Regions from separate parts of the Homo sapiens genome. Here all the other regions are linked to region 3. Evidence: fine-mapped expression QTL. A gene starts in region 3. Each other region holds a variant in brackets. All regions are shown on one strand. Distances are from middle to middle.

Region 1 (6,934 bases), 34 kb before region 3:
GATCGTGCCACTGCACTCCAGCCTGATGACGGAGCAAGACTCCATCTCAAAAAAATTCTAAAAAAAAAAAAAATTCTGTTAAAAAAAAAAAAGGAATGAAAGTCTGACATATGCTACAACATAGATGAACACTGAAGATGTATATACTAAGTCAAATAAGCCAGACACAAAAGGACAAACATTGTATGATTCCACCAACAGGAGGTATCTAGAGTGTCCAAACTCAAAGAGACAGAAAATAGAATGGTGGTTCCCAGACTGGGGTAGGAGGAATTGGGGAGTTACTGTTTAATAAGTATAGAGTTTCTGTTTGGGAAGATGAAAAAGTTTTGGAGATGGATGGTGGTGATGGTTGTACGACAATGTACACTGATCAAAAAGGATATTCAGAAACAGAATTGAAATTATAATAAAACAGTCTTTTCAGAAAAATATAGTTTAAAATGTATTTATCAGGAAATAAGAAAGATTTTAAAAATGAGATAAATATTCAATTCAAGAAATTAAACAAATTGGCCAGCACAGTTACTCACATCTGTAATCCCAGCACTTTGGGAAGCTGAGGTGGGCAGATCACTTGAGGTCAGGAGTTTGAGACCAGCCTGGCCAACATGGTGAAACCCCGTCTCCACTAAAAATACAAAAAGGCTGGGCGCAGTGGCTCACGCCTGTAATCCTACCACTTTGGGATGCTGAGGCAGGTGGATCACGAGGTCAGGAGTTCAAGACCAGCCTGGCCAACATGGTGAAACCTTGTCTCTACCAAAAATACAAAAATTAGCTGGGCATGGTCACATGCCTGTAATCCCAGCTACTTGGGAGGCTGAGGCAGGAGAACTGCTTGAACCAGGACACAGGAGGCAGAGAGAGCAGTGAGCCAAGATTGCACCACTGGACGCCAACCCAGGCTACAGAGCCAGACTCTGTCTCAAAAAAAAAAAATAAATAAAATAAAATAAATTAAAAAAATACAAAAAAAAAAATGAGCCGGGTGTGGTGGTACACACCCATAATTCCAGCTCTTTGGGAGGTTGAGGCAGGAGAATCGCTTGTGCCTGGGAGGCGGAGGTTGTGGTAGGCTGAGATCAGGACACTACACTACAGCTTGGGTGATACAGCGGGAGTCCATCTCAAAAAATAATAATAATAAAATAAAATAAAAATAAATAAATAAATAAATATATGGTGCTGTATTCCCAGTACTTTGGGAGGCTGAGATGGGTGGATCACTTGAGGTCAGGAGTTTGAGACCAGCCTGGCCAACATAGTGAAACCCCGTCTCTACTAAAAATATAAAAATTAGCCAGGCGTGGAGGCAGGCATCTTTTAACCCAGCTACTTGGGTGGGTGAGGCAGGAGAATTGTTTGAACCTGGGAAGCGGAGGTTGCAGTGAGCCGAGATCATGCCACTGCACTCCAGCCTGGATGAGAGTGAGACTCTGCCTCAAATAAATAAATAAATAAATACATACATACCAAAAACCTGCAAATGTTACACCAAATAATGAAACTTTAGGCATATTTCCTTTAAGACTGGGAACAAAACAAAGATTCCCACTAACCCTTTTATTGCTTCACTCAGTCTGGAGGTCTTTAATGCTATATGAACAGAAAATGGAATAAGAGGTGGGAAGATTGGAAGGAGTAAGATAAAGTTGTCATTTTTTCATAGATAATATGATTATCTACCTAAGAAAAACAACAAAAAAATCACACAGTAGTAGAGTAAGAAAGTTCAGCAGGGGTGTGATATCCAAGATCAACTTTAAAAAATGGCAGTTCTCTAGAATAACCAGAAATAACCAATTATAAATATGATTAAAAATAAAGTTCGGGTGTGGTGGCTCGTGCCTGTAATTCCAGCACTTTGGGAGGCCGAGGCTGAGGTCAGGAGTTCGAGACCAGCCTGGCCAACATGACAAAACCCCGTCTCTGCTAAAAATACAAAAATTAGTCGGGCGTGGTGGCACGTGCCTGTAATTCCAGCTACTCAGAAGGCTGACGCAGAAGAATTGCTTCAACCTGGGAGGCGGAGGTTGCAGGGAGCCGAGATGGCACTATTGCACTCTAGCCTGGGGGATAGAGTGAGACTGTGTCTCCAAAAAATAAATAAATAAATAAATAAATAAATAAATAAGGGCCTGGCGCAGTGGGTCATGCCTATAATCCTAGCACTTTGGGAGGCCAAGGCAGGCGGATCACCTAAGGTCAGGAGTTTGAGACCAGCCTCAACATGGTGAAACCCTGTCTCTACTAAATACATAAAAATTAGCTTAGCGTGGTGGCACGTGCCTGTAATCCCAGCTACTTGGGAGGCTGAGGCAGGAGAATCGCTGGAACCCAGGAGGCAGAGGCTGCAGTGAGCCAAGATAGTGCCACTGCACTCCAGCCTGGGCGACAGAGTGAGACTCTATCTCAAAAAAAAAGAAAGATTAAAAATAAGATACCATCACAGGCCGGGCGCGGTGGCTCACGCCTATAAACCCAGCACTTTGGGAGGCCAAGGCAGGCGGATCATCTGAGGTCAGGAGTTTGAGACCAGCCTGGCCAACATGATGAAACCCTGTCTCTACTAAAAATATAAAAAAATTAGCTGGGCGTGATGCTGGACACCTGTAATCCCAGCTACTCGGCAGGCTGAAGCAGGAGAATCGCTTGAACCCGAGAGGTGGAGGTTGCAGTGAGCCGAGATTGTGCCATTGCACTCCAGCCTGGGTGACAAGAGCAAAACTCTGTCTCAAAAGAAAAAAAAGATACCATCACAGTATCAACACAAACTCTAAAGTTTCTAGGAATTAGCAACTTAGGCAAGAAAATAAGACATCTATTGAGAAAAATGTAAAATTTTAATAAAACACACAGAAAATAATCTGAATAAATGGAATATATTTACATTGTTAGAAGGAATAATTAATATTATAAAATGGACAATTTTTCCCAATTAGCCTATACATTTAATGCAATCCCAATAAAAATTCAAGTTGAATTTTTTAGTAACTCAAAAACTTAAAAATTTTAAAGGCCCATAAATAGTTAAAGTCAACCTTTGAAAAAAAAAGAGAATTTGTCTTATTGGGTGTTGAGATATAGTACAGATATCACTATAGTAATAAAAACATTGTAGTGTTTACACAAGAGCAGACAATCAGACCAATGGACAGAGAATGCAGAGACAAACCCATGTGCAGACAGAAACAATACGTGATAAAGTTAGCAAGAGGAATCAATTCAGAAAGGACAG[A/G]CTGTTTAGTAAATGATTTTGAGAAATATGCAGAATTTCTCCATATTTAGATCCCTACCTAAGACCATACAGAAAGACAGTTTGTAAGTGAATTAGAGATTTATTATGTGAAGGAAAAATTATAAAGTTAATAGGGAAAAAACAGTAGATCTCTGTGACTTAGGAACAGGAATAGATTTTCTAAATGGAACTTCAAACTCCACAGCAAAAATGTGATGAATCTGGTAACACTGAACTTAAGAAAGTCTATTCAACAAAGGATACATGGACAAAGTTAACAGAATGACTCAGGACTGAAACTGATAAAGCATTAGGAACAAGAATATACAATGAAATCCTACAAACCAAATAAGAAAAGACTGAAACCCCCAAAGAAAATAAGGAAAGGATATGAATGGGCAATTCCAAAAGCAGAAACCCCCAGGAATTAACAGGCACATGAAGACAAGGCCAAACTCATTAATCACCATAGCAATGCAAATTAAAGCAATGAAATACCACTCCACACTCAGTAAACTGGCAAAAATTGTAAAGGCTTGGAAATGCCAATGCTGGAAAAGTCAGAAAGGCATATATAGGAACGCTCATGCATGCTGGAGGAGGAGAGCCAGGTGCAGGCTTGCTGGGAACAATCTTCTCCTATAGTACTTAGTCTCTTTAGGTTTTATGCATGATCTGAGGTGGCAGGAAGAAGGAAGCAATCTGGATGTCTACCACATAGATAACTACAAAGTACAATGAAGTGGGTACAGACAGAAGTTGAGGCAGCTAAAAGTAATAGAGAAAACATACCCATAGCTGCATCATTTACAGAAATTAAAAACCCAGTGCTACATATTTTAAAACAACCCAACAAAAAGAGCATCTATATGAACCACAACGGAATGGTATCCTATGGGAGGGAGGCCAATGGGGATAAAAGGGTATAAATAAACATATAACTCAATCATAGTAATGTGACAAGGATGAAGAAAATGACTAACTCATCCCTGTATAGGTAAGATCCAAAAATAATCCCTTCTAGTGAAAAAACTCTGACCAAGAAGATTCTCAGTCACACCATGTTGCCATTCAGCCAGGTTACCACCCAAACTTAGGAAACACCAGGAGTAAGGTCAGTACCCGAGTCTCCAGGGTGTTAATGGCCTTAGCCTGGCTGCTTCTGGCTGCCAAGAGCTGTTGTCTGGTATCCTCCAAATTCTGCTCAGCAAGTGTTTTCTGTAAGTTGAAAGAAGAGTAAAAGAAGACTATCATTCCTCAGTTGAATAAATATTTACAGATTATCTACAACATATTGTGACTTGTGCTAGGCACAAGAGACATGAATACATTTTTAATAATTCAGCTAATTGAGAAATAATTCACATATCATAAAGTACACACAGATAAATTTGAAATAGTCCCTTGACCTTGAGGCTGGAACAAAAGACTAATAAAAAATTACACAATAGAGTACAGTAAGTGTCCACAAAGAGGAAGAAGCACAGGGTGGGAGATACTCCCTGCCACAGGGCAGGTAGGCAGCTTTAGAACTCACAAAGTCGTTAGGGTTCAGGGAGCCTCCCAGGCAGGGGGATGACCAACGGCTATGTGAACAGCCTGCTACGTTGAGGGAACTACTACTCCTCAGAAGCCAAAATGATGATGGGTTTAGGTCAAAAAACAAGACTAGAAAGATAGGCAAAAGGGCCAGCTCATGAGAAGCTTTTGAATGTTGCAAAAAGGAGTTAGAACTTGATTCTGTAAGCAACATTTTTCAAAGTAGAAATTCTAGGCCGGGTGTGGTGGCTCACACCTGTAATCCCAGAACTTTGGGAGGCTGAGGCAGGCAGATCACTTTAGGTCAGGAGTTCGAGACCAGCCTGGCTAACGTGGTGAAATCCCATCTCTACTAAAAATATTTTAAAAATTAGCTGGATGTGGTGGTGGGTACCTGTAATCCCAGCTACTTGGGAGGTTGAGGCAGGAGAATTACTTGAACCCAGGAAGCGGAGTTGCAGTGAGCAGAGATTGTACCACTGAACTCCAGCCTGGGTGACAGAGTGAGACTCTGTCTTAAAAAAAAAAATGGGGCTGGGAGCGGTGGTTCACGCCTGTAATCCCAGCACTTTGGGAAGCCGACGTGGACAGATCACGAGGTCAGAAGTTCGAGACCAGCCTGACCAACATGGTGAAGCCCTGTCTCTACTAAAAATACAAAAAAATTAGCTGGATGTGGTGGTGTGCACCTGTAGTCCCAGCTACTCGGGATGCTGAGGCAGGAAAATCACTTGAACCCCGGGAAGCAGAGGTTGCAGTGAGCCGAGATCACGCCACTGCACTCTAGCCTGGGCAACAGAGTGAGACTCCGTCTCAAAAAAAAAAAAAAAAAAAAGAAATGTAGACTTAGCTGAGATAGCTGTTACTGAGATAGTTGTTAATCTCAGCTAGTTGCACAGATTTGAGGCCTTGCTCCAAGCCTAAGGAAATCAGAATTTCTGAGGGTAGGGCCAGAGATATATACTTTATTTACTTATTTATTATTTTTGAGATGGAATTTCACTCTTGTCGCTCAGGCTGGAAAGTAGTGGTGCGATCTTGGCTCACTGCAACCTCCGCCTCCTGGGTTCAAGTGATTCTCTTGCTTCAGCCTCCTGAGTAGCTGGAATTACAGGCACCCGCCACCATGCCCAGCTAATTTATTTATTTATTTATTTTTTTGAGACAGAGTCTCGCTCTGTCACCAGGCAGGAGTGCAGTGGCATGATCTCAGCTCACTGCAACCTCCCAGGTTCAAGCAATTCTCCTCCCTCAGCCTCCGGAGTAGCTTGGGACTACAGGCATGTGCCACCACGCCCAGCTAATTTTTGTATTTTTAGTAGAGACGGGCTTTCACCATGTTGGCCAGGATGGTCTCGATCTCCTGATCTTGTGATCCGCCCGCCTCGGCCTCCCAAAGTGCTGGGATTATAGGTGTGAGCCACCGCGCCTGGCCTAATTTTTGTATTTTTAATAGAGGCGGGGTTTTGCCATGTTGGCCAGGCTGGTCTTGAACTCCTGACCTCAGGTGATCTGCCCGCCTCGGCTACCCAAAGTGCTGGGATTACAGGCGTGAGCCACCACGCCTGGCCTAGAGATATATACTTTAAACAAACTTCCCAAGTAATTTCTATGCACATTAAACATTATAATAATGATGATGGCACAATAATAATATTGATCATGTTTACAGCTGACATACATTGAGACCCTACTCTGTTCCGGTTATCATTCTAAGCACTTCACATATTGTAACTTATTTAACCCTAACAACAATTCTGAGTTTAATAGTATAATAAAACCAATTTTATTGGGGAGGAAGCAAACACAAAGAGATTAAATTACTTGCTCTAAGTCAGGGGTCCCCAACCCTTGGGCCACAGACCTTGCAGTCTGTTAGGAACCAGGCCGCACAGCAGGAGGTGAGTGGTGAGTAAGCACTACCACCTAAGATCTGCCTCCAGTCACATCAGTGGTGGTGTTAGATTTTCATAGGAGCATGAACCCTATTGTGAACTGTGCAAGTGAGGGATCCAGGTTGCACACTCCTTATGAGAATCTAGGGACGATGATGATCTGAGGTGGAACAGTTTTATTCTGAAACCACCCCCTCACCCGACCCAACCTGACCCCATCTGTGGAAAAACTGTCTTCCACGAAACCAGTCCCTGGTGC
Region 2 (6,934 bases), 100 kb before region 3:
CTCGAACTCCTGACCTCAAGTGATCCACCCACCTCGGGCTCCCAAAGTGTTGGAATTACAGGTGTGAGCCACCAAGCCCAGCCAAGGGTAATCTTTACTTGAAGTCAGCTGTAGATGTTGACTCAACCCATGTACAAAATACCTTATGGGAACACCTAGATTAGTGTTTGACAAAGTAACTGGGTACTATAGCCTACCCATGTTGATCGCACCCCTACTTCTTAGCTAGGGAAACAGTTTCAGAGAGGTGGACCGCCCAGGTCCCACAAATAGAACTGGGAAAGTTATATCCTTGTCTGTAGATATGTCTAAATATATACCGCAGAACGCTAGCATCTTTAGGGAGGATTTGAGGTAACTTTTAAATACCTCTTACTGTCTAGTATTTAAAATTTCACGTGTAACTTATGATCACAAAATTAAATGATTTTTCACTTTGGGAAAAAAAGGACTTCCAGCTGGGTGCGATGGCTCACACCTGTAACCCCAGCACCTTGGGAGGCTGAGGCGGGCAGATCACCTGAGGTCAGGAGTTTGAGACCAGCCTGGCTGACGTGGTCAGACTCCCTCCCGCCCCCAACTAAAAATACAAAAATTAGGCGTGCATGGTGGTGCATGCCTATAATCCCAGCTTCCCAGGAGGTTGAGGCAGGAGAATCACTTGAACCCCGGGGCAGAGGTTGCAGTGAGATTGTGCCACTGCACTCCAGCCTGGGTGACAGAGCAAGACTCCTGTCTCAAATAAGTAAACAAAATTTAAAGAAACGAGAGACAAGGAAATGTATAAAAAGCAAGAAAAAAGGCACAAAAGGTAGATTTTTTAAAACCAAGTAAATCAGTAAGTGTGAACAAACTAGATAAATCATTCAATTGAGACACATTGAAACAAAATGATACAGAAAGGTCAACATAAAAGGGTATGTTATTAGAGGTGTCCAAGAAAAGGATGGGAAAAGATATAGCATGAGAACAACAACAAGAAACATTTTATAATGACAAGTTTAATTTGTGCATATACATACATATATACGTATACATATACATATATGTATTATTTTAAGAGTTTCACTCTTGTTATCCAGGCTGGAGTGCAATGGCACAATCTCAGCTCAGTTTAACCTCCACCTCCTGGTGTGTCCGGAATTGGTGGGTTCTTGGTCTCACTGACTTCAAGAATGAAGCTGCGCACCCTCGCAGTGAGTGTTACAGCTCTTAAGGCAGCGCGTCTGGAGTTTGTTCCTTCTGATGTTCAAATGTGTTCGGAGTTTCTTCCTTCTGGTGGGTTCGTGGTCTCGCTGGCTCGGGAGTGAAGCTACAGACCTTCATGGTGAATGTTACAACTTTTAAGGCAGCACGTCTGGAGTTGTTCATTCCTCCCCGTGGGCTCATGGTCTCGCTGGGCTCAGGAGCAAAGCTGCAGGTCTTCACGGTGAGTGTTACAGCTTATAAAAGCAGTGCGGACCCAAAAACTGAGTAGTAGCAAGATATATTGTAAAGAGCAAAAGAACAAAGCTTCCACAGTGCAGAAGGGGACCCAAAGGGTTGCTACTGCTGGTTCGGGCAGCCTGCTTTTATTCTCTTATCTGGCCCCACCCACGTCCTGCTGATTGGTAGAGCCCAGTGGTCTGTTTTGACAGGGTGCTGATTGGTGCGTTTACAATCCCTGAGCTAGACATAAAGGTTCTCCACGTCCCCATCAGATTAGTTAGATACAGAGTATGGATACAAAGGTTCTCCAAGGCCCCACCAGAGCAGCTAGATACATAGTGTCGATTGGTGCATTCACAAACCCTGAGCTAGACACAGGGTGCTGATTGGTGTGTTTACAAACCTTGAGCTAGATACAGAGTGCCCATTGGTGTATTTACAATCCCTGAGCTAGACATAAAGGTTCTCCAAGGCCCCACCAGAGTAGCTAGATACAGTGTCGATTGGTGCATTCACAGACCCTGAGCTAGACACGGGGTGCTGATTGGTGTATTTACAATCCCTGAGCTAGACATAAAGGTTCTGTACGTCTCCACCAGACTCGGGAGCCCAGCTGGCTTCACCCAGTGGATCCCGCACCAGGGCTGCAGGTGGAGCTGCCTGCCAGTCCCGCGCGGTGCGCCCGCACTCCTCAGCCCTTCGGTGGTCGATGGGACTGGGCGCCGTGGAGCGAGGGGGCGGCGCTCATCGGGGAGGCTTGGGCGGCGCAGGAGCCCATGGAGGCGGTGGGAGGCTCAGGCATGGCGGGCTGCAGGTCCCGAGCCCTGCCCCGCGGGAAGGCAGCTAAGGCCCGGTGAGAAATCGAGCGCAGCGCTGGTGGGCTGGCACTGCTGGGGGACCCAGTACACCCTCTGCAGCCGCTGGCCCGGGGCCGGTGGGGCCGGCCGGCTGCTCCGAGTGCATCCGCCAAGCCCGCCCGCCAAGCCCACACCCATCCGGAACTCCAGCTGGCCCGCAAGCGCCGCGCGCAGCCCCGGTTCCCCGCTCGCGCCTCTCCCTCCACACCTCCCTGCAAGCTGAGGGAGCCGGCTCTGGCCTTGGCCAGCCCAGAAAGGGGCTTCCACAGTGCAGCAGTGGGCTAAAGGGCTCCTCAAGTGCCGCCAAAGTGGGAGCCCAGGCAGAGGAGGCACCGAGAGCGAGTGAGGGCTGTGAGGACTGCCAGCACGCTGTCACCTCTCACTGGGTTCAAGCAATTCTCCTGCCTCAGCCTCCCGAGTAGCTGGGATTGCAGGTGCCTGCCACCATGCCCAACTAATTTTTGTATTTTTAGTAGAGACAGGGTTTCACCATGTTGGCCAGGCTGGTCTTGAACTCCTGACCTCAAGTGATCTGCCCGTCTCGGCCTCCCAAAGTACTGGGATTACAGGCATGAGCCACCGTGCCTGGCCCCTGCTAAATGTTTATCTTTTATTTTTTGTGGAGATGGGTGCTTGCTATGTTGCCCAGGTTGGTCTTGAACTCCTGGCTTCTAAGCAGTCCTCCTGCCTTGGTCTCCTAGAGTGCTCGGATTGTGGGCATGAGCCACTGCACCCAGCCTCAAGTGGGGATTTGAACCCAGGTCTGGATGGATGCTAAGCCCTCGCAGAGTGCGCAATGGAGACTTGCATAGAACGGCACAGCTGCGGGCAGTGGAAGGCTGAGATTTAGGCCTGAACTTCTGGAAAGAAATGGGAGAGGAAATGACTCGATGTTCCTCCTACCCCTACTGGTCAGGAAGGGAAGGGCAATGCCCCAGACAGGCCGAGGAGGGCTTCCTACCCACCCCTACCCCCAGACACAGGGGCCCTGGGCTGGCAGGAGTCCATTATCATGAAGTCTCAGGGGTGGGGGCAGCTGAGCAAACATCAGTTCCCTGGCCTGATACAAAATGGCCATTGAAGCATTTCAGGGCCTGGGGGAGGTGTGGGGCTGCTGAGACAAGCTTCTGAATGGAGGGGCCGGGCTACTGCACGGCACCCCAGCTGCCAACACTTTCAACTTTGTGATGAGGAAGCTGAGGCCCAGACAAGCCGATACATTAGCCTGGACTCACACAGCCAGTCAGATCCCATCATTCTGGCCCACAGGGTGGGGGTCTGGGGGGTGCCCAATGGAGGCCGGTGCCAAGTTCCAGGTGTGAGCCCATGGACCCGGGAACCCACAAGTTGCCTGTACTTAGCCCCAGCTCCAGGTGGCTCAGAGCAGCCCTTGCCAGCCCTGAGAGGCTCAGCAAGGAGCTCAAGGTCACACGGCAAGCAGAAACTGCCAGTGTCTCCCTGCCCGGCCAGGGCGGCTCCCGCTTTCTGGCCTGAGCTCTGCTTCCCACATGACCCCCACTCTCCCAAGCCCCATCCGTCAGCTGTCTCCTTGGAGGGCGCTGCGAGGCTGGTCAGATTTCCACAGGGCACATGGGTGCCGGGTGTGACTGGGACAGCTGGGAGGGCAGGTGGGCGGAGGGGGCTGCTGGCGGCACGAGGCCCCAGCCAGGGATGGGATCCTGCAGCAACTGCTCCAGGCTGCCCGAGGGGGGCCAGGCCCTCAT[G/C]GGGGAGCTGATTCTGGGTCCGTATCCCAGCTGTGCCACCGAACTGGCTGGTGACCCTCGTTTGGCGTCTCTTCCTCTCCTGGATTCTCGAGTTCCCCAGCTGGTGGCGCTGTGATGGTCAGGTTATTATTAATTATTATCATTATTACCTCCTGGTGGCCTGGGAAGAAATGGTCAGGCCAGAGAACCTAAGCAGAGGTGGCTGGGGGGCCACTTGACCCCTGAAGTTCCATTGGCTTCCTAAAGCTCCATTTGGCCATTTGGGCTGTCCCTTGCTGCTGCTGAAGGCCCCTGTTGCTCACCACGGCTCCCCCAATGCTTGTGACAGCACAGTTCAGAACTCGCGTGAGATTGGAGTCATTCTGGCTGGAGGGGGGCCAGAGGCCCAGAATTCCAGCCCTGCGTCTCCTCTTTCTCCACATTTCACCCCCCGACCCCCCTGCACCAGGTAGCTCTGAGGCCACCCTTGGCACCGTCAGGGTTCCATGACACCTACTTTGAAAACCATGGCCAGAATGCCATCTAAACCCCTTAGCTAGGCATTCCAAGCCTCCATTCCCCACGCCTCCCCCAAGTCTCTAATTCTTATTTTCCCCAGGTGTCCCCCAGGTGACCCAGTGCCCACCACACCCGATTCCTGGCTGCTTCAGAAACAGGCTCTGCAGCTTTACCCTGGGGCCTTTATAGATGCCGTTTCTGCCTCTCAGAATCTTCTTTTCCGCTTAGCACCTGGCAAATACTTCCTTAACTCCAGAGGCCTGGAAGCCCATTGTCTCCTCCCAGAAGACCTCCCTGATTGCGGAAAGAGGGTCCCTTGCTCTTCCCTGAGCTCTCTGGGGCCCTGCAGAGGTCAGGGGGCCCAGAGGGGTTGAGGGGCGTGATCCGGCAAGGACGGGAGGGAGGGAACAGGGAGGGATGTAGATGGAAGGCAATGGGTGGAGGGCAGGAGCAAGGGAAGAATGGGGGGCGGGGGAAGGCACCACCTTCTGCCCCTCCCCTCACCCCTAGCGCCTATACCCGCGTCCTCTCTCCTCTCCTCCACCCCACCCTGGGGCCAAGCATCTTCTCCAGGCTCCAGGGAGGAGAGGAATTCCAGGAGCCCCATTTCAGGGTCCCAGGTGGGCCACCAGTCCAGAGGATCAAGGGATAAGGGAGAACGGTCATGAGCCAACACCCACTCCAAGTTCCACATCTCATGGCTCAGCTCCCAGATGATCTGCCTTCCTGGGCTGCTTTCCGGGGGGGGTCGGGTCCCCCTAGAGCCCCAGGAGGTCGGCGTAGGCCTCCAGGACGCAGGCCTTCTGCTACCATCACAGACACCACAGGCCTGCTACTCACCCGGGACAGGAAGCCACTTTCTGAGCACCAGCTATGTTCAAGGCCCCGGGCCAGGCACTCACTGGTTTGGTCTCATTTAACTGGGCAACACCTCCCTTCTCAGGGACCAAGCACCACTTCACTGAGGGAAAATGGGGTTCAGTGGAGAAGCTGTTAGAAGGACACACCCCCCCCCAAACTGTGCACAGTCTCCTTTAAAAGAGCGAAGTTGGTGGAAGAAGACAGGGAGCAGACACATGTGCCCTTTGTGTTTTATTCTGATTAGTTAATTACCCATTTGCTTTTGTTTCTTACCTTTCCTATGGTGGTGAGTGCCCTTTGTTTTTTATTTTTATTTTTACTTTTATTTTTATTTTGAGATGGAGTCTCATTCTGTTGCCCATGCTGGAGTGCAGTGGTGCGATCTCAGCTCACTGCAACCTCTGCCTTCCAGGTTCAAGCGATTCTTCTGCCGTAGCCTCCTGAGTAGCTGGGATGACAGGCATGCGCCACCACACTTAGCTAATTTTTGTATTTTTAGTAGAGACAGGGTTTCACCATATTGGCCAGGCTGGACTCGAACTCTTGGCCTCATGTAATCCACCTGCCTCAGCCTCCCAAAGTGCTGAGATTACAGGCGTGAGCCACCACGCCTGGTTTATGCTTTAATATTGTTGTGTCCAAGACTGTTTAAGAATTTTTTTTTTTTTTTTTGAGGCAGAGTCTCCCTCTGTGGCCCAGGCAGGAGTGCAGTGGCACAATTTAAGAATTTTAAAAATTGGGGGCAGGCCCAGGGGCTCATTCCTGTAATCCCAGCACTTTGGGAGGCCAAAATGGGCAGATCACAAGGTCAGGAGATCGAGACCATCCTGGCCAACATGGTGAAACCCTGTCTCTACTAAAAATACAAAAATTAGCTGGGCGTGGTGGCACGCGCCTGTAATCCCAGCTACACGAGAGGCTGAGGCAGGGGAATCGCTTGAAGCCGGGAGGCAGAGGTTGCAGTGAGCCAAGATCGCACCATGGCTCATGCCTGTAATCCCAACACTTTGGGAGGCCGAGGTGGGCAGATCATGAAGTCAGGAGATCGAGACAGTCCTGGCCAACATGGTGAAACCCCGTCTCTACTAAAAATACAAAAATTACCTGGGCGTGGTGGCACGTGCCTGTAGTCCCAGCTACTGGGCAGGCTGAGGCAGGAGAATCGCTTGAACCTGGGAGGCAGAGGTTGCAGTGATCCAAGATCGCACCATTGCACTCCAGCCTGCCAACAGAGCGAGACTCCGTCTCAAAAAAAAAAAAAAAAAATTGGCCGGGCACGGTGGCTCACGCCTGTAATTCCAGCACTTTGGAAGGCCGAGGCAGTTGGATCACCTGAGGTCAGGAGTTTGAGACCAGCCTGGCCAACATGGTGAAACCCCACCTCTATTAAAAATACAAAAATTACCTGGGCATGGTGGCGGACCCCTGTAATCCCAGCTCCTTGGGAGGCTGAGGCAGGAGAATCACTTGAACTCGGGAGGCAGAGGTGACATCCAGCCTGGGTGACAGAGCTTAAAAATTAAATAAATGAAACAGCATAAAAATCCTCTCTAGCTGGGTTGTGGC
Region 3 (6,934 bases):
ATTTTTTAAGCATGACATTTCCCTCATATAGCAACATCTTCATTTTTTGAAATCTTATAGTCACAAATGTATTTTACTAATAAGAAACATATTGTAGGCTGGGCATGGTGGCTCACGCCTGTAATCCCAGCACTTTGGGAGGCCAAGGTGGGCGGATCGCCTGAGCTCAGGAGTTTGAGACCACCCTGGGCAACATGGTAAAAACCTGTCTCTACTAAAATACAAAAAATTAGCCAGGCATGGTGGAACACACCTGTAGTCCCAGCTACTCGGGAGGCTGAGGCACGAGAATTGCTTGAGCCCCAGAGGCAGAGGTTGTGGTGAACCAAGATCAGGCCACTGCACTCCACTTTGGGCTACAGAGCGAGAATCCATCTCAAAAAAAAAAAAAAAAGAAAGAAAAAAGAAAAAAAGCAACATACTGTAATCACTGGGGCCATCTTTCCAACAATCGTCCCAATACAACAATGCACTCTTGCTAACCCCATACCACAACTCAGAGACCTTGTTAAGCAGCAATGACTTAGTTGTTATATAAGTATATATGTCTGCAATGAAAACAGGCCCAGACATTTTCAGAAATGAAATGCAAAAGAAGATGTATAAGGTATATAGACGGAAAAACAGTACAAGAGGACACTGGAGAGAATATGGAGAGGAACTCACAGAAAAATAAGGAAAAAAATATAGAGTACCTTAACATTTACAAACCAAACATTAACAAAAAGGTACCTCAGAGTAAGAAGAATCAGATGTACAGGCTCTTGTACAGCTATAAACCATGAAAGGTATGAAATAATCAAGCAATTTAAAATATTTATTGGAAGAATACCCTGCAAAAGTATCTTTATTTCTTAAGTAAAGGTACTTACAAAGTCATCTCCTGAGTCAGCTCCCATTGAGGCAACTGATTCCTTGCTCACAGACCGTGGGATCCTAGTAGCACCTCCTGGCCTCTGAGCAACAGCAGTCTCTTCTGCAATTTTCTTCTTCAGTTTTGCAAACATGTTTGCTGTGTGGCTATCCTGCACAGATGACGAGCTCTCAGTAGTCCTGGTGCCTGTGTTCAGGATTCAGACAGAGGCGCCTACAAAGTTTCAGACATCCAAGCTAGCTGCATTCCCACTTAAATGTGGGCCAAGGGCTTATGGCAACACAGGATCTACAAATCAGATGAAAGAGACAGTTCAAAAGTTAAACATTGGAAAGATTTCGCATCTGAGTTGTTAAGTTTTAGATTTCAAAACTAAGTTTCATAACTTACATGTACACTTATAGAACACAATTACTAAACATTTAAAAAGCACTCAGGTGCTTCATATGCATATACAGATGAAGAAACCCAGTCTCAAGAAGATGAAGTAACCTACCAAAGATTGTGTGGCTAAGTGGAAGGGCTGGTATTTGAACAGAGGACTCTGATTCACAAATCTCTACGTTTTTTTTTTTTAATTACATGTTGGCTATGACATATAACACACTTGGTAAAATGTCCCAGAGCAGACATCAACATCATATATTCATGACTTAATGATTTCAAATCCTTCCTCCAATAAGCTTAACTACAGTTTAGTGTTCTTTAAGTTGAAGACAAAAATGCATGTAATTCAATTCATATGTAATTCAATATTCAATATGTAATTCAATATGTAAAAGGTGTAATATCCTACTGTTTCAGGATGGTTTGCAATCAACTGTCCAATAGGAAAAGCTGGTAACAGAAAAAAGAAGACACACCAGACAACTCTATTATATAAGTATCTGATATCCTTGAACATTTTCTAGAGACGCTGTGTGGTTTTGAGTTTGATAAAATTACCTCCAATGAGTTTATTTTCTTTCTTTCTTTTTTTTTTTTTTTTTTTTTTTTTTTTTGAGATGGAGTTTCGCTCTTGTTGCCTAAGCTGGAATGCAATGGCACTATCTCGGCTCACCGCAACCTCCACCTCCTGGGTTCAAGCGATTCTCCTGCCTCAGCCTCCCGAGTAGCTGGGATTACAGGAATGCGCCACTATGCCCGGCTTATTTTATATTTTTAGTAGAGACGAGGTTTCTCCGTGTTGGTCAGGCTGGTCTCAAACTCTTGACCTCAGATGATCCACCTGCATTGGCCTCCCAAAGTGCTGGGATTACAGGCATAAGCCACTGCGCCCGGCCTCACAGTTTCTTTTCTTAAGAATGTTTGACATGATATTCAAAGTAAGATTCAAAAACCTTTTCCTCCTAATGGTGTATAAAACACTAATATTCTGGTTCCAACCTTAACTTTCCATGTTTTGTGGAGGATACCTAAGCTCTGCTCTGAGATACACAAATGCCATCTTACCACTTCAGATCCTCCATTAAGGCTGTACAATTCTTCAGAAACTTTACTTTCAATGTGTGTAAACCACTTACTCACCTGGCTTATCTACTAGATTTAAAACAGCTTGGAGGTCAAAGCATTCTGTCCTGCATGAAGACAAAGATAAAATGCATTGGGTATTTCTTTTCAAGTGTATGGCCAAAATGTTGGGTGGGGATAGGGGGAAGAAGTGAAGGAAGAGGAGGGGCAGAAGAAGGATTAAAGGGGGTAAGAAAACCTGTCACAACTCTCAATGGGATACCCTCCCTAACCCTGATCTCCTATGAAATTGTTTTTTGCCTAAGAGCTTCACTTACAAGCGCATAGAACAGAATTGATCACCGCAGCGGGTGCCTAAATTCACTTCTCCCTGGGAGCCCTGAGCAAAACAATTTGAATGAGGTTAAGTTTTCCTGGAGCCAGTATTTATTTCTCAGTTGATTACTACACTCACATACTGTTTACCCGGCCAGACCCTGGGCGTCTGGTCACGGATGTGCACTGACAAAAAGCAAGGCAAAATTGGGTAAAGACAGATGTCTAACCCCCAGGGAGGCAGGCAGGTGCCTGCCACGGCAGTTTGGATCTCACTCCCTCAGGCTACCTCCAGCCCCGCCCGTGCTTTGGACTGTCAAAGAAAGGAAGGATCCAACATCTCTCCCATTTGACAGCAAGGAAACTGAGCCCTAGAGAGGAGGAGCGACTTGTCCAAGGTCGCGCAGGGAGGAATCCCGGAACCCTAGGCTCCAGACTCCCAGGCCGGGGCAGCCCGCCTCCGCCCCCACTCTCACCCTTTCAGCACCCCGGTGCCGCCCCCCGCCTTGGGGCTCGGGCAACCCTGACCGGGCCGCTGTGGGGACAGACCGAGGCCACTGGGAGAATAAGGGGCCTGCTCGCATTCCCGGAGTCCTGGCCCGCGCACCTGCCTCTCTCTGGGAAGCCAGCAAAGCCCCGCCTCCCGGGCCTCTCGTGAGCCCCGGCCCGCGTCACCAACCCCCACCGCCCAGCCGGCGAGCCGAGCAGCGACCCGGAACCGCACGTCTCCCAGCGCGCCGGAAGTGACTGCGCGGTGGGGGGAGGGGGTTGGTCCGACGCGCGCATGCGCCCGTGCGCGGCCTTGGCGGCTACTGTTACCACCTCTGAGCGGCGACTGGGCCGGAACGGCTGGAGTTCTCGGGTGCCCAGCCGGGCGCTCCCTCAGCCCAGTTCGCCACGTCAGCGAGCGGCCAGAGCCACAGATGATGACTGAGTCTCCGAGGCCTCTCGGTCTTTTTCTATTTTAACAGGGGCGCGTGCAGAGCGTGGTAAGTGGGAGGGGCTTCGTGTCAAAAGTAAAAGAACCCAGTCGGTGCCACAGGCCCCGCTGTGCTGTGCTGGCTACAAACCCGGCCGGGGCTGCACTGCTTGGCCAGGCGCCCCCCCGCGCCGCCCGGTCCCGCCGCACCCTAGGCAGCTGCCTTGCCACCGTGTGACCCGGGAAGTCTGCGCCTCCAGCTTCACTCACAAGCCAGTAGCTCCAGAAACTAGTCCTGGGACCTTACACCTTGAGACCAGTTTTTAGACTTTGGCGCCTGTCACCTACTGTAGATGATGCGTTTTATATCGCAACCGAGTACATAACGTCCAGCAGAACCACGTTCTTACTATGTAATGCACTTAAAAACGCTGGTGGCAGCTCACTATATTGGATTAGCTTCACCATCCGCTGCTGGGCCGTCTCCTTTCTGCTTAGGAAGGAAGTTGAAAACATCAAAAGTGCACGGCGCGCGCTTCTGTGGTCCCAGCTACTCGGAAGACCGAGGTGGGAGGATCTCTTGAGACCAGGGCTTCCAGACCAGCCTGGGCACCGTGGCGAGACTCCGTCTCTTTAAATAAATAGCAATCATGCAGGCAGTAGGAAAATAAACAAAAGAGGAAAAACTATCTTGTTCCAAGTCACAGTCCAGGCCGGGCGCGGTGGCTCACTCCTGTAATCCCCACACTTTGAGAAGCCGAGGCGGGTGGTTCACCCGAGGTCAGGAGTTCAGACCAGCCTAACATAGCGAAACCTCGTCTCTACTAAAAATACAAAATTAGCCGGGCATGGTGGCCCATGCCTGTAATCCCAATTACTTGGGAGGCTGAGGCAGGATAATCGCTTGAACCCGGGAGGTGTAGGTTGCAGTGAGTCAAGATCGCGCCATTGCACTCCAGCCTGGGCAACAAGAGCGAAACTCTATCTCAAACAAAAAGTCACGGTCCAAATCAGTACCCTAAGTCAGGTCCCTGAACTCGTCAATGCCAAGCCAGCCATTCCACCTTAAGGAACTCTGGTTCCATCCCCAGACTCAACACAAGCCCAAGAATAAGCAGATTCCACCCAATTCTTCAACAGTCCCTTCCCTCGCGTGTTCCAGTTCTGACCTGCAGGAGCAGGGCAGGGAAAAAACCAAAACCAGGATTCAAACATTGACAAACTAACAAGAAGCATCAACCCCAAGATAGTTCAAAGCCTCTGAGATATTTGAATGAAGCAAACCCTAACAGTTCAGCTGTCAATACCGAAAAAGTACCAAAAACTTTAAGCAAATAATGTTTATTTTTATATTGATGATACACTTAATATATATGTGGATTCAAGGTACAAAATTCATGTACAAGAGTTCACACCTGATGAATGTAGACACATTCCTAGAGAACATTTATCAATGTGAAAATTTCTTTAATACACTGACAACAAAAATCAAATATTCTCTAATCTCGTTATTCAATAAACATCAAAACAACGTTTCAGTTTTCATCCTCTAGTACTGAAGTGCCCTCAAGGTGGTAGGCACTGTATAGCAGGAGAAAACATTGGAAAGCCTACTGAATCCGCTCTGCAGAATCACAGTGTTTACTCTGAAATTCATTTAGTGAAGTAGTGGAAGGCTATCTTTTATGACAAATCACATCTCATACAAGAGTCAAAAGTGATGAACTCAAGAAAATAAAATGTTTCAAGAACTTCTCAATTTCTAAAATCTATGGAGTATTAACCATAACAGACAAAGAAGAAAAAGGCTGCTGGAAAGGAAGAAAAAAACATCCTGTTTAAGAGAACGTATGGCTTAAGCAATTTAGAACACAACTGACAAGACTTTTACAATACCACAAATGTTCAAGTCAAATGATAGTGACAGTATAATTTTCCCCTTAGTCATTGGTAGTAAATAGCCCCTTCAAAATTTATTCTACTGTTAACACATATAAAAACTATGAATCCAAACAGTTTTGCTAACGGGGCTGAGTTGATGGATTTTTTTCTAAAGTATTAACTCACAATATCCAAATATTAATACAAATGAACGACAAGATTGTTTCAAAGATTACAGTGATTTGTGAATAGCTAAATAGGCAACCAAATAGCTTCATTATTTGCACGACAGATTAGCAGCACTTGGATAAGAATTGTTACATGAAAAATATTGTGCTTCAGTCTCTTGAGGAGAGCTAATATAACTCTATAATCCCTATAGTGTTAAAATTCTATAACATTTCAGTTACAGACAAGCACAATTGTTAAAAAGTATTTCACACCACTAGAAAATCGAGTAATTATATCCTCCAAATGAATTACTTCTATGATTTAAACAAGTGCATTTCTGCCTAATAATCAGAATGTAGACAATAAGTTCAGCATTATTTTCAAGGGAAAAAGATCAAACATAACTTATTTTAACTCCTATTTGATTATCTTAACCTTTAGTGATGATTAGAACTTAAAAAAGGGAAACTCAACCTTCCAATGGAAACTGCTCAGAGGAAATAATAAAGTGTCCTGAAATTACAATAATTCTTAGCACAAAGTAAAAAGTGATTTATAACTGCTTCATCTGATTCAATGATTAATGAAATCACTATTTATACTGGTGCTACACAACGAAGATAACCTATATGGATAAGTTATTTTACTTGTAAACTCTACTATGAAAATGTTAGGACTTTGTATTTGCCTTTCCTATTATCTAAGATGTTTCTACCTCAACTGGAAGAATCATCCAAAATCTAAAGGTTTCTCTGATTGTTGAACAGCAAGGTTTATTAAAAATAAGCAAAAAAGTTGGAGAACTAGCCATATGGTCTATGTGGCAAAAGGAATGCATTCAGATAACTATAAAAAGCCACATAAATCAAGTTCTAGATTATTGTACTGAACCATTAGAAGGTCTTTTTAATGATACAGTAACAAGTTAACAAAAACCATTCTTCAGGAAATAGTAATAAAAATTCCTTTTTTTTTTTTTTTTGAGAATGAGTCTTGCTCTGTCACCCAGACTGGAGTGCAATGGCACGATCTCGGCTCACTGCAACCTCCGCCTCCCAGGTTACAAGCAGTTCTCCTGCCTCAGCCTCCCAAGTAGCTGGGATTACAGGCGCACACCACCATGCCTGGCTAATTTTTTTTTTTTTTTTTTTTTTTTTGTATTTTAGTAGCGACAGGGTTTCACTGTATTGCCCAGACTGGTCTCCAACTCCTGAGTAATAAAAATTCTTATTGTGCTAAAACACTAAGCAATTTTTCCTGCAGATTTTTAATTTACCACAGTACATAGTTTTAATTTAGAAAAA

What was found. PIP is the estimated chance that this variant, and not a neighbour inherited with it, causes the effect.
Region 1: its variant is the best candidate, but not a certain one, in a credible set for the expression of GOLGA1 in whole blood (TOPMed, PIP 0.51).
Region 2: its variant is the best candidate, but not a certain one, in a credible set for the expression of GOLGA1 in whole blood (TOPMed, PIP 0.78).

What each region holds. Positions count from the first base shown.
Region 1 is chr9:124,904,014-124,910,947 of GRCh38, forward strand. GOLGA1 (golgin A1) reads right to left here. Exons shown (of 23, transcript NM_002077.4): 12 at 4,364-4,459. Among named protein-coding and RNA genes, the nearest start is that of GOLGA1, 34 kb to the right of the region's middle. The variant A/G (reference allele first, on the strand shown) is at 3,242.
Region 2 is chr9:124,836,620-124,843,553 of GRCh38, forward strand. No RefSeq gene overlaps it. Among named protein-coding and RNA genes, the nearest start is that of WDR38, 13 kb to the right of the region's middle. RefSeq lists enhancers at 3,133-3,736, 3,737-4,339. The variant G/C (reference allele first, on the strand shown) is at 4,010.
Region 3 is chr9:124,937,705-124,944,638 of GRCh38, forward strand. It overlaps GOLGA1 (golgin A1), which reads right to left and starts at 3,379. Exons shown (of 23, transcript NM_002077.4): 1 at 3,267-3,379; 2 at 2,402-2,451; 3 at 873-1,162. The coding sequence starts at 1,007. It overlaps SCAI (suppressor of cancer cell invasion), which reads right to left. Exons shown (of 18, transcript NM_001144877.3): 18 at 4,904-6,934. RefSeq lists enhancers at 2,971-3,471, 3,472-3,972 and silencers at 3,054-3,423, 3,754-3,813.